2 linked regions of the Homo sapiens genome follow. The protein of the gene in region 1 interacts with the protein of each later gene in a pairwise test. Each region holds a gene or a part of one and is shown on either strand. Other genes may lie near its edges.

What was found.
Region 2: the proteins of ZNF618 (region 1) and TBC1D13 interact in binary tests that used the Homo sapiens proteins (3 or more experiments, as listed by UniProt).

What each region holds. Positions count from the first base shown.
Region 1 is NC_000009.12:113,879,279-113,886,387, forward strand, and holds part of ZNF618 (zinc finger protein 618), read left to right. Parts: intron 1-7,109. UniProt on the Homo sapiens protein: Regulates UHRF2 function as a specific 5-hydroxymethylcytosine (5hmC) reader by regulating its chromatin localization.
Region 2 is NC_000009.12:128,804,253-128,810,930, forward strand, and holds the end of TBC1D13 (TBC1 domain family member 13), read left to right. Parts: intron 1-1,606; coding exon 1,607-1,767; intron 1,768-2,001; coding exon 2,002-2,059; intron 2,060-3,561; coding exon 3,562-3,627; 3' UTR 3,628-6,178; downstream 6,179-6,678. UniProt on the Homo sapiens protein: Acts as a GTPase-activating protein for RAB35. Together with RAB35 may be involved in regulation of insulin-induced glucose transporter SLC2A4/GLUT4 translocation to the plasma membrane in adipocytes.

The sequences.
Region 1 (7,109 bases):
TCTCCTGACACACAATTCAGCTTCCTTCATTCCATTCTGCTGAAATTTTGTTCTGTTGTCTATGGCTAGAAGTTGAAAATCATTTCTGGTTTTGTAGAACTGTTTTTTTTTTTTTTCTGTTTTTTTTTTTTTTTTAAATTGGTTATTCTGATCATGTTTGTTGTAAAGGAAGTAGAGGTGCATGATGGTTCTATTGGGGGCGGGGCCAGTTTTCTTTTGTTTCTATTGGTGTCTCTCTCTGGATTGAGATCTGACCTTGGCCTTGGCTCTCTCACCTCCTATTTTAGGTGGACGTGTGACCAGAAATGGACATGTGAGCTAATTTTTATTAGCTCCTGTCTGTTCACCACATTCTCGTAGATTATTGGGCAAAATATCTGGCAAATTGGACTTGGGGGTGGTAATTTGATGATGGGCTGAATTATTTTGGCGAAAGATCGTTTATATTCAGTTTCACAGTGGAGACTCTTATTACTTAATGTTTTGCTTTTCTGCCTAAGGAGGTTTTTTTTTTTTTTTAATTTTTTCTAACAAGGTTTGAAATTTCAAGGGCCTGCTTTATAGTTTGACTTTGGAGCAAGCTAGGAAAAGAGGTTTGCTTATACTTCCAGCTCTGCACAGAGGTGAACTTGAACAAGGGTTCTTGCTTTTGCAGAACGAAAGCAACAAAGATGGCTGGTCAGTATAAGGCTGACCTCTCCCTCGTCCTAGAAAATAAACAGCCAATGGCTTGTTTCACTTGAGAAACTGGGTTTTAAAACTCCTCCAGTGTCAGATACAATATTTTTCTCACTTTTGACTCAGCTCTTGGCATGCTGCTTCCTCTGACCTCAGAATCCTTACGTCTTCTCCTTGGTGGGTGATAAGAACTTCCTTGCCATATATGACTGATGTATATAAGCCGACTTCTCATGGTCATGAGGAAATTTTGAATTTTTTCCATGTTCTTGTGATGTTTTGGGTCAGTTGTACCTTCTTTCTGGTGATGTAAAATGAAGTGGCTCTTTTCAGGAGCCCTAGCCCCCACAAGGTCTTGCTGTGTGACCTTGGACAAATCACTTTTTCCTTCAGAGCCTCAATTTTTGCATTTATAAAATGAACACTTGGGATCAGATCAAGGATAATAATAAATAGGTTTCATTTCTGATTGTAACTCCAAGGAATTGGTTATGGCTGCCTGGATCACTGTGTTGAGAAGGATTCTGAGGCCATATCCCGACTCCCATATTCTAGAGAGAGGGGTGCAGTGGCCAAACAGCATTGTAAATCAGAGTGGAGAGTGTACCTCTTAGTTACCATTCCCAGGCGAGACCTTGAATCATGGGCCATTAGTGGCCTGTGAAGTCAATTTAGTGAATCACAATCAGAATTTTTTAAAAACAAGAATAGACTAGAATATAGGGGAACAAAAAATAGCAGAGGCATACCACAGGGTACAGGTGAGTATCCTCTCATGAAACTTGTATTTATATTTGTGGATGTATGTGTGTGATTTGAAATAGATTTCCTCCTGTGGGTCACGGCCAAAAGAGTTTGAAAGGTACTGGACTAGCTGAACCGCCATGATGTGCTGCAGGTATACTGCACTTTATTGCTTATACTTTATTTTTGCATTTATTATCTCAATTAACTTTTAGGTGAACCCTGTGGGTTAGGTGTCCTGTGCCACATATTTTGAGCCCTGGTTGAGCCCACTTCAAGGGCCACATATGAAGAAAGCTCAGCCACATGGGCAGCCCAGGCACATACCCCAGCTTGTTGGCCTTGGATGAGTCTGGAAGGACATATGGAAAGGCAGATACAAGTTTGAAGGCAGCGTCTTTGCAAGGTCTTCTTGCTGGAGAGGAGATCTAAAGTGTGTGGAGTCCTTGTCTTTTGTTCCCCACTTTTAGTTTAAATTGCCAGAGAAATTTTTCTGGAGTTAGAGAGTCTGTGTTTGTGCTATATTTAATTTAATCAGACAAAAACACAGTCTGTATTTTTGTGTGTGTGCACTTCCTTAAAAATCCCAGAATTTCTGTCTTAGTCTCCTCATCTTTTAAATGTGTCAGGTCAGCGCTAATAGAAATATAATTCAAGCCCCCGTTGCGAGCCACATATATAATTTTTAATTTTCTCACAGTGTATTAAGGAAAGTAAAAGAAACGGGTGCCATTGATTTTAACATATTTAACTCAGTATATCCATAATACTATCCTTTCATCAAGCCATCCATATGAAAATTATTAATGTGACAAGTTACAGTCTTTTGCGGGGGTGCTATTGAGTCTTTGAAATCTAATGTATTTTACTCCTACAGTACATCTCAATTCTGACCAGCCACATTTCACCTGTTCAGCAGCCACATGTGGCTGGTGGCTACTATATTGGACAGCTCAGGTTTGGACCAGTTGTCGTCATCACTGGCTGGCCCCAGAAGGGTAGCAACACCTTTCAGACCTCTTGGTTTTGTTGGTGAGACTTCCTATCAGAATCTCACATGCTCTGAGGCATTTCAGCCTGTAGTGATGATGAGTTCCATCCATATAGCTCTCCTGGCTAGAGTAGCCCACATTTCCCTTTTATTTGTCCCAACGCAGACTTCTGCCAGGGTTAGGCCACTGTGCTGTAGTTAAAAATGACAAATGATGGCTAGTAACTCCGGGATGATGTGTTGCAGCCTGTGAGCTGTTGAAGTCAAGGAGTGTGAGTCCGGGAGGCTGTTGCTTTTTGAAGTGCATTTTAAATAAAGTGTTGCCAGAGAGAAGGATGAAGTTGCAAAAAGGCAGCAGGTGGCCAGGACCAGGGCTGGGGTCTGAGGAGAGGAAGGAGATCAGAGGTAAAAGATGGCCTGGCAATGAAATCTATTTCTGAGCCAAAAACATGGCATCAGCAGGAAATCCCCCCAGGCCAGGCCTTAGGTCAGATGCATAGAGATTTTCCGAATCCACCCCAATTGGGAAAATGGAAAGCTGGGTTTGAGGTCTGCCAGACCAGAGTTTGAAATCCAGCCTCATGGTGTGGTTAGCTTTGTGTGACTTCGGGAAAGTCACTCTGGTTCTGGAACCACAGCTTCTACATCTGGGAAAAGAGGGTTAATGATCCCAGCCTTGCAGGGTTGTTTTAGGATTAAATGAAGGGGTCACATGTGGAGACTCTCAGCCGGTCTGAGGGCCTGAGTAGGTGGTCGACGCATGTGAGTTGACTCAACCCAGTGGCCAGGGATTCTCCATTTGGGGAGATTAAGTCCCACTGACAACACTTGGGGTAGTCCTGGAAACCTGGTGGCTTATCGTTAGCAGGCAAAGTTAGGCGACAAGTGAGAATGTACACTCTTGGCTGTTGCTTTAAAACAGCCTGCCATCCATGAGACTTTCTTGTTAAAGCATTCTGGATGCTTTCATTCCGGGGCTGCTCTAGCTCCTTGGAATGTTTCTGGATTTGTTTCTGAGCCTGTGGCAAGGCTTTAAAAGGGATACATCTCAATCGCGGGTGGACCTGTATGTCTTTGAGCTTCTGCTCATGCTGGGGCCCTTGCCTCTGGTGCCCCTTCCCTCATTCATATCTGCTTCGTGAGAAACCAGACCCTCCTCGAGATCAGCTGCACTTCTTCTTCTGTAGAGCTCCCCCAACAAATTTCCCCAGGTAGGCTTCCTCTCCCTCTGCCCCCATGGTACCTCCCAAACAATGTGGACCCACAGGTCAGAGTTGGTTGTTTGCATTTCTGCTTCTCCAGCCAACTTGTAACATCTGTGAGGGTAGAGATCACCGGTTATTCATTTTAGGGTCTGGCGCAGAGCAGCAGCTCCATAAATATTTGATGACTTCATTTGATTTTTGGAAATAGCTCAGATCAGTGGGCTTTGGGTCTAGTGAAGAGTGGATGACCAATTTGGGCTTGGCCATTTGGTCAAAGCCAATGTTTTATTAGGGAGCCCGAGGCACATTTTCTTACAGCTGGCTCTGAAGCCATGGCTCCCCTGGAATAATAAGTCCAACAGGGATCCTTAGTTGGGGAAATGCTCCTTTACATGTCTTGGGGGATTTTTAAAATGTTCGTCTGATGACTTTCACCCCTGCCCTCCTCACTCCTTTTGTATAAAGTATTTCTTTAAAGTGGATGGGGGACCCCCAGATGCCTGATTTGCAGGTATGGTGAATGGGGCATAGCAGTGCCCTGTATTTATGCCTGGTCTTCTTAGCCAGGTGTCCTGGAACTGAACACCAGGGGCCTGTTTGCAGAATATCCAGGCACACGGGCTCCTTCAACTTGAAGCACCTAAATGTGTGATGTGACCCCATTTTTGGTTGAATTTTGGTTTGCAGATGTCAAAGATTCAAGGAAAATTTATGGGAGAAAACAGAACCTTCTGTTTCTTGGCTTAGTTTTTTTCAGCACGTTTTATAAAATGCTGTCATTTTTAACACTTTGTGGCCAATTTCAGCAAGCAAGCATAGAATCCTAAGTTAAGGTAGACATCGATCCTCAGTGTTCATATTCCCACGTTTCCATATTTCTGAAATCAGGATGCCCCTTACAGTAGATTTGTTCTTCTAGTGAACTTTTTCTCCCTCTTATTTCTTCTCCAAAAGCTGTTATAAAATCGATGGTGCATCTATCAGTTGAAAGCATCTTGGGATTGAGTGTTGTTGTCCTCCTGGTGGGGAGGACTATGACCTGTGGGGGCTCCATGCTCTGTTTACCTCACTTTTCTCTGGGCTTGGCCCCCCCCCCCCCCCCCCCCGCCCTGTACAGTGAAGGCAGGACTTCACCTTGGGAAGAAACATCTGGAACTCTGACTTAGTCCTACTTTCCTGCCATGTCTGTGTGTAGGTTTTGTAATTTTGCTGTGGCCTCTCTAAAAGGGGCAAGTAGCCCGTGGGAGGGAGGTGAAGTCCTGTAAATGGGGGAGGGGGGTCTCTTCAGTACAGCCACATGCATGAGCTGGCCCGACAACAGCGGAGCACCAGTTTGACATTTCCAAGGGTAGAATGAGCAGAGCATAGTCGGAGAGCCAAGGCACGGCTCCCCTCTCTGCTCCACCAGTTAATCATTTTGTGGTGTTTGCCAAAGTACTTCATTTCCTTGCACCGTATTTTCCTTACCTGTAAAGGTGAGATGATAATATATTGATGATGATGATTGAAGATGATGATGCATAGGGTTCTTGTGAAAGTTGTGAGAGATGTAAGAAAAAAGTTTTGTAAAGGGCAAAGTTCTTTTCACTTGCAGCATGTTATTTGTGCATCATCTAGTCCAAGGATGGTAAATAAGTAGCATACATGCTGCCATTCCCCATCCTCTAGCCTGTGGCAGACATCACTAATTGACCATGGTAGTCCTTTCCATTGAGTATGGCCAGCGGCCTCAGAGTCCTTAGTATTATATAATGCTACCCATCAGTTGGGCTTAGATGGGACATGAAGCCAGTTTGTCCTTCCTTATCGACACACACACACACGCACCCCATGGGACATGAAGCCAGTTTTTCCTTCCTTATCGAGACACAAACACACAGAGAGAGAGAGAGAGAGAGAGAGAGAGAGAGAGAGAGACAGAGAAACTGAGGCCTTGGGAAGAAGGTGGAGTGACTTACCCAAGACCTCAGTGAACAAGCGGAAGTGGGACTAAAAGCCTCAGATTTCTTCACTCCTCAACCAGTGCTTTTCCTGCCCTGTGTGTATACACTGTATCAAAAGGAATTAAAATTAATTTGGTCTTGAGAAATAGCGAGAGAATCCTGACTCCTCCCTTCCCTGTTATAATTAGATACCCTTGGGGTTGTCATCAAAGCAGGGCTGGATGACCTGCTTCTCTGCCTGATCCTGGAGTGATCAGGTTTCAAAGGGGAGACGCCTGTGGCTAGGCAGCTGGATTGGATGGTGTCTCTCAGCAGTGTAAGTGACGTGGCAGTGGGGCAAGGCAGGCCCTGGGGTTCCTGGATGATGACCTGGGTTTGGGACAGGTTTGCTGCTTACACACTTTCAAGTCCACAGACAAGTTCTTTAGTCCTTCCGTATCTTAATTTCTGCATCTGAGAAATGGGCTGGTAATGATTCTTCACAGGAATGACATAAGATAACAAGTTTGAAAATGCTTTGTAAACTCTTGACATACATGTTACTTTTTAAATACACGTTACTTTTTATAACTAGTACGAATTATTAGTGCTATGCTGGGTAAGTTGTGTAAACTGAGTCACAGACTAAGGGCCACAAGATGAGTGGGTCCCTTCTCTTGTATGTTATTTTATCTTTTTGCCAGCCCAGGGTTCAGAAAGTTTGGAGTTTGTGAGTCTTTCACAGATTCTTTCCTGTTTGCATCTGTCCCCAGCCTCATCCTGTTTCAATCATGTATGTGGCCTGCCTAGCCCTGGAAGGCCTTGGGGTCTGGGACCCCGACACAGCCTCTACTTGTTCATCTGTTTAGTGGGAGGACAGGCCATCCTTAAACCCTTCCAGGCTTTTTGAAAGCATCGTATGAGTTAATGGACTAGAAAGTGCTTCATGAACAGCAAAGAACTGGAGAAACATGTTGGCGACAACTCCTTTCTTAAAAAGGAAAGGAGGAAGGCTGAGGTGAGGATGGTATTGAGTCGACAAAAAAGTGATATAAATATTTTGGCTGACAAAGCAGAATGAGGCTTTCTATATAAGCTAAAGCGAATAAATGGAGTCAGGTGATGCTTGGCCCCCCAGTCTGCTATAGAAAACACAGGGAAAAACATTGCTTTCTAGTGAAGTGAGCCCTTTGTCAGGGGTGAATCTTTGATTACCAGGGGTCAGCCCTGTTCCTGGGTGAGGACCCAGGGAGGAATGAAACCTGGTGTCTCCCCCAGGGGTGGAAATGGCTCCTGCAAAGTGGAGGAGGCCTGAGTATCTCTTGGCAAGTCCCTGGCTCGCAGTTTGCTGGTAGCACTCAAAGTCAAAAGTGCTTTTGGCTTGCTTACTGGATGTGTTACTGTCCAAGACAGCATATCTGAGGAGCTAGCCATTCTTACCTCTCAGCTTTGAGCCTGTGCCATACAAATTCCTGCCTGTCCCAACATTTTTGTGGAAAATTGGGGGACTAAGGGTGGGAATTTTTGTCAGGTGAAAGTTTGCAGAGAATTTGTGTTTTGTTTTATTTT
Region 2 (6,678 bases), about 15 Mb from region 1:
ACCCATGTGCTGAGGCAGCTGATGGTGGAGCCCAGCTGGGAGGGAAGGGGAAAGTTGAGAATGGTGCCCATTGTGTGCCAGGCATACTGCAGGGCATTTACTATGAACTAAATTGGTTAAGCTGTTAGTAGTCTTCTGAGGTAAGTGTTAACTTCATTTTTTTTTTTTTTTTGAGATGGAGTCTCGCTCTGTCGCCCAGACTGGAGTGCAGTGGCACAATCTCGGCTCACTGCAAGCTCCACCTCCCAGGTTCATGCCATTCTCCTGCCTCAGCCTCCCAAGCAGCTGGGACTACAGGCACCCGCCACTGTGCCCGGCTAATTTTTTGTATTTTTAGTAGAGATGGAGTTTCACTGTGTTAGCCAGGATGGTCTTGATGATCTCCTGACCTCGTAATCCACCCGCCTCGGCCTCCCAAAGTGCTGGGATTACAGGCATGAGCCACCGTGCCCAGCCCTTTTTTTTCTGTTTTTTTTTTTTTTTTTTTTTTTTTGAGAAGGACTCTCTCTCTCAGAGGCCAGGTTGGAGTGCAGTGGTGCAATCTCAGCTCACTGCAACCTCCGCCTCCCAGGTTCAAGCAATTCTCATGCCTCAGCCTCCCCAGTAGCTGGGATTACAGGCGTGCGTTACCACGCCTGGCTAGTTTTTGTATTTTTAGTAGAGATGGGATTTCGCTGTGTTGGCCAGGCTGGTCTCGAACTCCTGACCTCAAGTGATCCGCCTACCTCCCTCTCCCAAAGTGCTGGGATTACAGGCATGAGCCACTGTGCCTGGCTGGCCAGGAATAATGATATCTTTTTAAACAAATATGGGTTGAGTGTGATGGCTCACAGTTGTAATCCTAGCACTTTGGGAGACTGAGGCGGGAGGATCGCTTGAGCCCAGAGGTTGAGCAACATAGTGAAGCTTTGTCTCTACAAAAAATTTAAAAACAAATTAGCCAGGCATGGTGGCACAGGCCTGTAGTCTCAGCTACTCGGGAGGCTGAGAGAGGAGCCCTCGAGGTCAAGGCTGCAGTGAGCCATCCATGATTGTGCCACTGCACTTCAGCCTAGGCAATATAGCGAGACCTCATCTCTAAAAAAAAAAGGAAGTATGCTTTTGCTGTTTTGTAGCATGCTTTTTCAGTTAATATTCACTGTGGCTGACCAGAAGGCTTGTCTCTACTGGGAATAATTGCCTGTGGAATTGTTCTGTGGATTAAATGAGTGAGAGGACATATTTAATATTCTAAGCATAGCCCAGGCTTTTAGTAAGTGCCCTGTGATGGTCACTCAGCACATCCACAAACCCAAGGCTATCATCTGCAAAGTGTGTGAAAAGAGTTTGAGCCATCATTTATAAATCTGGAGAGCTTATTATATAAAGGTTTGGGTTTCCAGCTTCTCTTTAAAAAATAGGAAGATCTGAGGATGTTGGCTGGCAGCAAACAGGCTCCGCCCCTTTACCAGGCAAGGCTGTCCGGCAGCCTGGTGCCAGCCCTGGTGCTCACACCTGGCATGCTGGGCCCTGCTGTTCTGAATTCACTTCTGACCCACTGCGTGGTGCTCCATGGCCGGCAGCCAACACAGAGTCATGCCCCCCACCCCCCACGCTGTCTCCCCAGCAAGAGCAGAACATCAAGCCTCAGTTCTTTGCCTTCCGCTGGCTGACACTGCTGCTGTCCCAGGAGTTCTTGCTGCCTGACGTCATCCGCATCTGGGACTCCCTCTTCGCCGATGACAACCGCTTTGACTTCCTCCTCCTCGTCTGCTGCGCCATGCTCATGTGAGTGCGGGCATGAGCTGTCATCAGCTCACCTGGGCAGTCCTTGGAGAAGCCAGACAGGAGGACCCTCCGCCCCGAAGGGTGGGCAGGGCTGCTCTTTCATGGCTGGAGTGGGATTCTGGAGTCCTTGGGAGGGCGACAAACCAAACTTGAGGTGGGTAGGGAGGGAGGAGTGGGCAGGGCCTGCACTCAGAGCATCCCAGGTCCCAGCGCTTTTGCTGCTGCTTTTCATAGGCTGATCCGGGAGCAGTTGCTGGAAGGGGACTTCACTGTGAATATGCGGCTGCTGCAGGTAATGGGAGTTGGGGGCAGGCTCAGCCACTGCCATGAGGCTGGCACTCGCCAGGCACCTGCCCACGCCAGCTGCTGCGACAGGCTGGGCAGGGGCAGCGGAGTGTAGTAGGGATTAAAGTCCAGACCCCTGAGCAGATCTGGTTTGGATCTGGGTTTGAATCCTGGTTCTGCCACTGACCTGGAATGTTGGGTGGCCTTGAGCAAGTGACTTGGCCTTCAAACCGTGTACTCTACGTAGGTGTTCACACCTAGGACACAGCAGGTGCCCAGAACATGGCCGTGCTTGCTGGTGGCCATGCTCAGGCCCGGGGAAGGAGGGTGGGGTGTAGTGATTAAGAACATGGGCTCACCGGGCGCGGTGGCTCATGCCTATAATCCCAGCACTTTGGGAGGCTGGGGTGGGTGGACCACCTGAGGTCTGGAGTTCAAGACCAGCCTGGCCAACATGGCGAAACCCCGTCTCTACTAAAAATACAAAAATTAGCCGGGCTTGGTGGCATGCACCTGTAATTCCCAGCTGCTTGGGAGGCTGAGGTAGGAGAATCACTTTAACTTGGGAGGTGGAGGTTGCAGTGAGCCAAGATCGCATCACTGCACTCCAGCCTGGGGGACAGAGCAAGACTCTGTCTCAGAAAAAAAGAACATGGGCTCAAGGGCCTACAGCTTTAGGTCCACAGTTTTGCTCTGCTGTGCTCATCATGTGACCCAAGCCAAGTTACAGCATCTCTGGGTCTCAGCTTCTTCACCAGCACGTGGCCTTAGTGTTGCTTTGTTGTTGTTTTTTTTTTTTTGAGACAGAGTCTCGCTCTGTTGTCCAGGCTGGAGTGCAGTGGTGCAATCTCGGTTCACTGCAACCTCCACCTCCCAGGTTCAAGTGATTCTCCTGCCTTAGCCTCCCGAGTAGCTGGGATTACAGGTGTGTGCCACCACGTCTGGCTAATTTTTGTACCTTTAGTAGAGACAGGGTTTCACCATCTTGGTCAGGCTGGTCTCGAACTCCTGACCTCAGGTGATCCGCCCACCTCAGCCTCCCAAAGTGCTGAGATTACAGGTGTGAGCCACCAAGCCCAGCCTAGAGTTGCTTTTCCCTAACTTCATGGACCAGATCTGGAAAAAGTGCAGAATCACAGTGGCCACTCACAGGGCTGTTGGGACTTCGCGCTGATGCTCAGACACTGGCCCAGTCCTACTGGCTCCACACGAGGGAGCTCGGGTTCAGTGGCAGTAGTGGGAGAGCTGAGGCAGCACGGTCTGGTCCTGAGGAAAGGGCCGCAAGAGCCTGGGAGTGGTTGTGTTTGGATCGTTGAGTTGGTGCTGCATGGTGTAGCGTCAGCTGCATGCAGGGGTCTGGGGGTTGGGGAGTGTGGGATGCCTGGTGTTCTGTGCTCCTGCCCCTGAGGCCCAGGATCCAGCATGGCAACGGGTCCCAGCAGGGAGGGTGTGGGTGTGGCAGGGGTGAAGTGGCTTCAGAGGCAACTGTTGGCCTTTTCCTGTGCCCAGGACTACCCCATCACAGATGTCTGCCAGATCCTGCAGAAAGCCAAGGAGCTCCAAGACTCAAAGTAGCCCGGCGGCAAGAGGCCCATGTTCCGGAGAGAAGCCTCCCGACCCTGTGCCCTGGCTCCCGGGACACATAGAAACCTGTAGGAACCCAGCCTGAGGGGAAGCCACAGGATCGGCCCGAGACCCAGGCCATGCCCACTGGGGACACACTGTGCCGTGCTCCTTCTGCCGCCACGCCCAGCTCCCCACCTGCCCTGCACTCTGCCCTCTTTGCCCAGGATACTGAGGAGGGCTGGAGCTCGGGAAGTTGTCCTTCCTGGGCCAGGGCCGTTTCTGGCACTGGGAGGCTGGCAGGGGCCCCTCCCTGCCTCGGCTCTGCCGCCCCAGCCTCAGTTCCTGCTTCTGGTCTTCTCCTGGGCTCCACTCAGGGGAGGTGCTTGGCCAATGGGCCAGAAACCGCTTCTGAGCGGGGCACTTCGGCTGCTCCACAGGGAAGGCGACACTGAAAGCTGAGTCCTGCCGTCTGTCTCACCCACAGATGTCTGTAGTCGGTCGGTGTGAATGTGGGCCCAAGTCCCCAGGCATCTTCTCCGTGTGTGTGTGTGTGTGTGTGTGTGTGTGTGTGTGTGTGTGTGTGTGTTAGGGAGTGAGGGTCTCTCAGGCCTCCAGGTCTCCCAGCCCCTCCTTCTCTGTCTCTACCTCTCTGCCTGTCTCCTTCCACCTCCTTCCCAGAGTGGGACTGTGTCTTGCTTCATGATTCCTCTCTCCATTACTCTCCCTGCCCTTCTCTGTTGGGGTGCCTTATCCTGAGCCACCTCCTCTCCCCGCTTGCCTCTGCTCCCCTGAACCTGGGAGACAGATGAGGAGACTGGCTCAGCAAGGCCCCTGGAGGTCAAGCTTGGCCTTTGCCTCCTGTTCCCATCCCCCAGCCCTGGCTCCTAGGTCCTCCCAACTGGGAGGGAGTCCTCCGTGCCTCACTTAGAGGGTTCTGAACCCGTTCCCTACACAGAAATCTTGGAAACCAAATGCTGCTGAGTAAGGATGAAGCTTTGAGCCTCCTGCCCCTGCTTTCTGCCCAGGGAGGGAGAAGGAAGAGGGGGAGCTGGTTTTTCTGGAGGTTCCCCCAGAGGCCCTCCTGTCCGAAAAGAAAAGGACCTTGATTCTGAGCCCAGGGTCGGAACCCATTGCTTCAGAAGAGTTGTCATTCCCTCGGCTTCCAGGTCCCAACCCAGGGTTGGGTTGAGTGAGTCCCACAAAGGGCAAGTGGGGCCCGAGGAAGCCTCTCTGGGGCCAGGGGTAGCTGAGCTTAAAGGCCCTGGGTCCTGCCAGTTCCAGGAGGGCCATGTCTGTGCCTCTGTGTACCCCTCCACCCGCTGCGGGCTGAGGGAGGTGCAGGGCCTTCTCTGACCCCTGCCTGAGCTGTTCCCAGGGCTGGAGCAGGTGTACCCTGAGCAGGGGCAGCTGGCCACTCCCAGTTCTCACCAAGTCACCTCCCTCCTTGTACAAGGTTTGCGTCCGGAAGCCGGGTGCCATAGTGAGGACCCTCGTCCTCCAGACTGGCTGGCAGGAGTCAGGCCCCAGCAGCCCTCCTGCCCCCAAAGCTTTCCGAGTCTGGTGGGCAGGACTTCTCGCTGCCCTTCCAAGCCCGGCTTTGGGCCAGGAAAGGCTTCCCCAGGTGGCTCTTCTACCAGGCTTTTCCTTTGATGCCGCCTGGATTTCCGCACCTGCCTGTCTCCTCTCCCAGAGCACAGTATTTGGGAGACTTTGACTATTTATTCAGACTCCTGGCTATGTATTGCACATTGGCAAGTGCTCTGGGGATGAGGCATGGGTATAGGAAGGGAGAAAGGAGTTGGAGACAAGATCCTCTTCATTTTCCAAGATCAAAGTCAGCCTCTTCTCCCCATGCTTCTAGGAACTGCCTGGTTTTCGAGCAGGTCCTGGCTGAGCGGGCTCTGAGTTCTGTACTGGAATTGAGTGTAAAGATGGGAAGAGAACTGGGCTGACTCCAGGACCTCCAGGATGAGGCAGAGGCATGATGCTTCCTGCTCACCTGGGCCACCCTCTCTCCAGGACTTGTCAGCTGGTGGTTCAGCCCCTTCTCCAACCCCTTCATAAGCTTGGGCCACTGCCTGGGACCCAGCAGACACTGCCCAGGACTCTTTAGTGCACTCACTCTTGTCTGCCCCCTACCTTCCCTCCTGGAACCACACTACTTGAATCACCATTACTTTGCCTCGCTGGCAGAGTTGGGTCAAGTGCCCTCTCCTTGACCTTGAGATGAAGGTCAAGAGCACAGGGACCAGGCCTTGGTTAGGCTGAGCTCCCAGCAGGACACCGCCTGCAGAAAGGACCTGCCCTGATAATGTCCCTTCCCCAGATTCTCAAGCAGATGCCCAAGGGAGGTCCCCACAGAGCCAGAGTGCCTGAGGCTTCCTGCTTGAGAACCTGCCCCCTGGATCTTGGACACTTACAGATTGAGCTGTATGAATTCAGCGGGTCTCACTCCAGAGGGTCAGAACGTTTGCTTTAGTTTTTTCATCTGTTTTGTTCCTTGAGTCAGTGCTGTTGATGACGAGTTGTCTTGAATAAATCATGTGTTCTTTGCAATGGGCATTGGTGCTGTGATGAGCTGAAACTTTGGAGACCTCAGAACAGGGAAAAATGAACAGGGATGGAGTCAGAGTCTCTTAGAGTAGCCCTTCTAAGAAAAGGTCCAGGAAATCCTTCTGGGAAGAGCCTGTTGGATTCTTCCAGTTCAGCCTCAGCAGTCTGCAGCTGGGGGAGGAGGGAGTGAGTACTGGCTAAGGAGGTTCTGCATACATGATTACATAGCCTGTTATTTTTCAGATTTAAAAAAGCTTAGACCATCCATTATATGTGGAAAAAGCATTTGACAAAATTCAACATCTTTTCCTTATTTTTAATTTAATTTTATTTTCTTTGAGACGGGGTCTTGCTCTGTCACCCAGGCTGGAGTGCAGTGGCACGATCTCCACTCACTGCAACCTCCGCCTCCTGGGTTCAAGCGATTCTCCTTCCTCAGCCTCCCAAGTAGCTGGGATTACAGGTGCCCGCCACCACACCTGGCTAATGTGTATTTTTAGTAGAGAC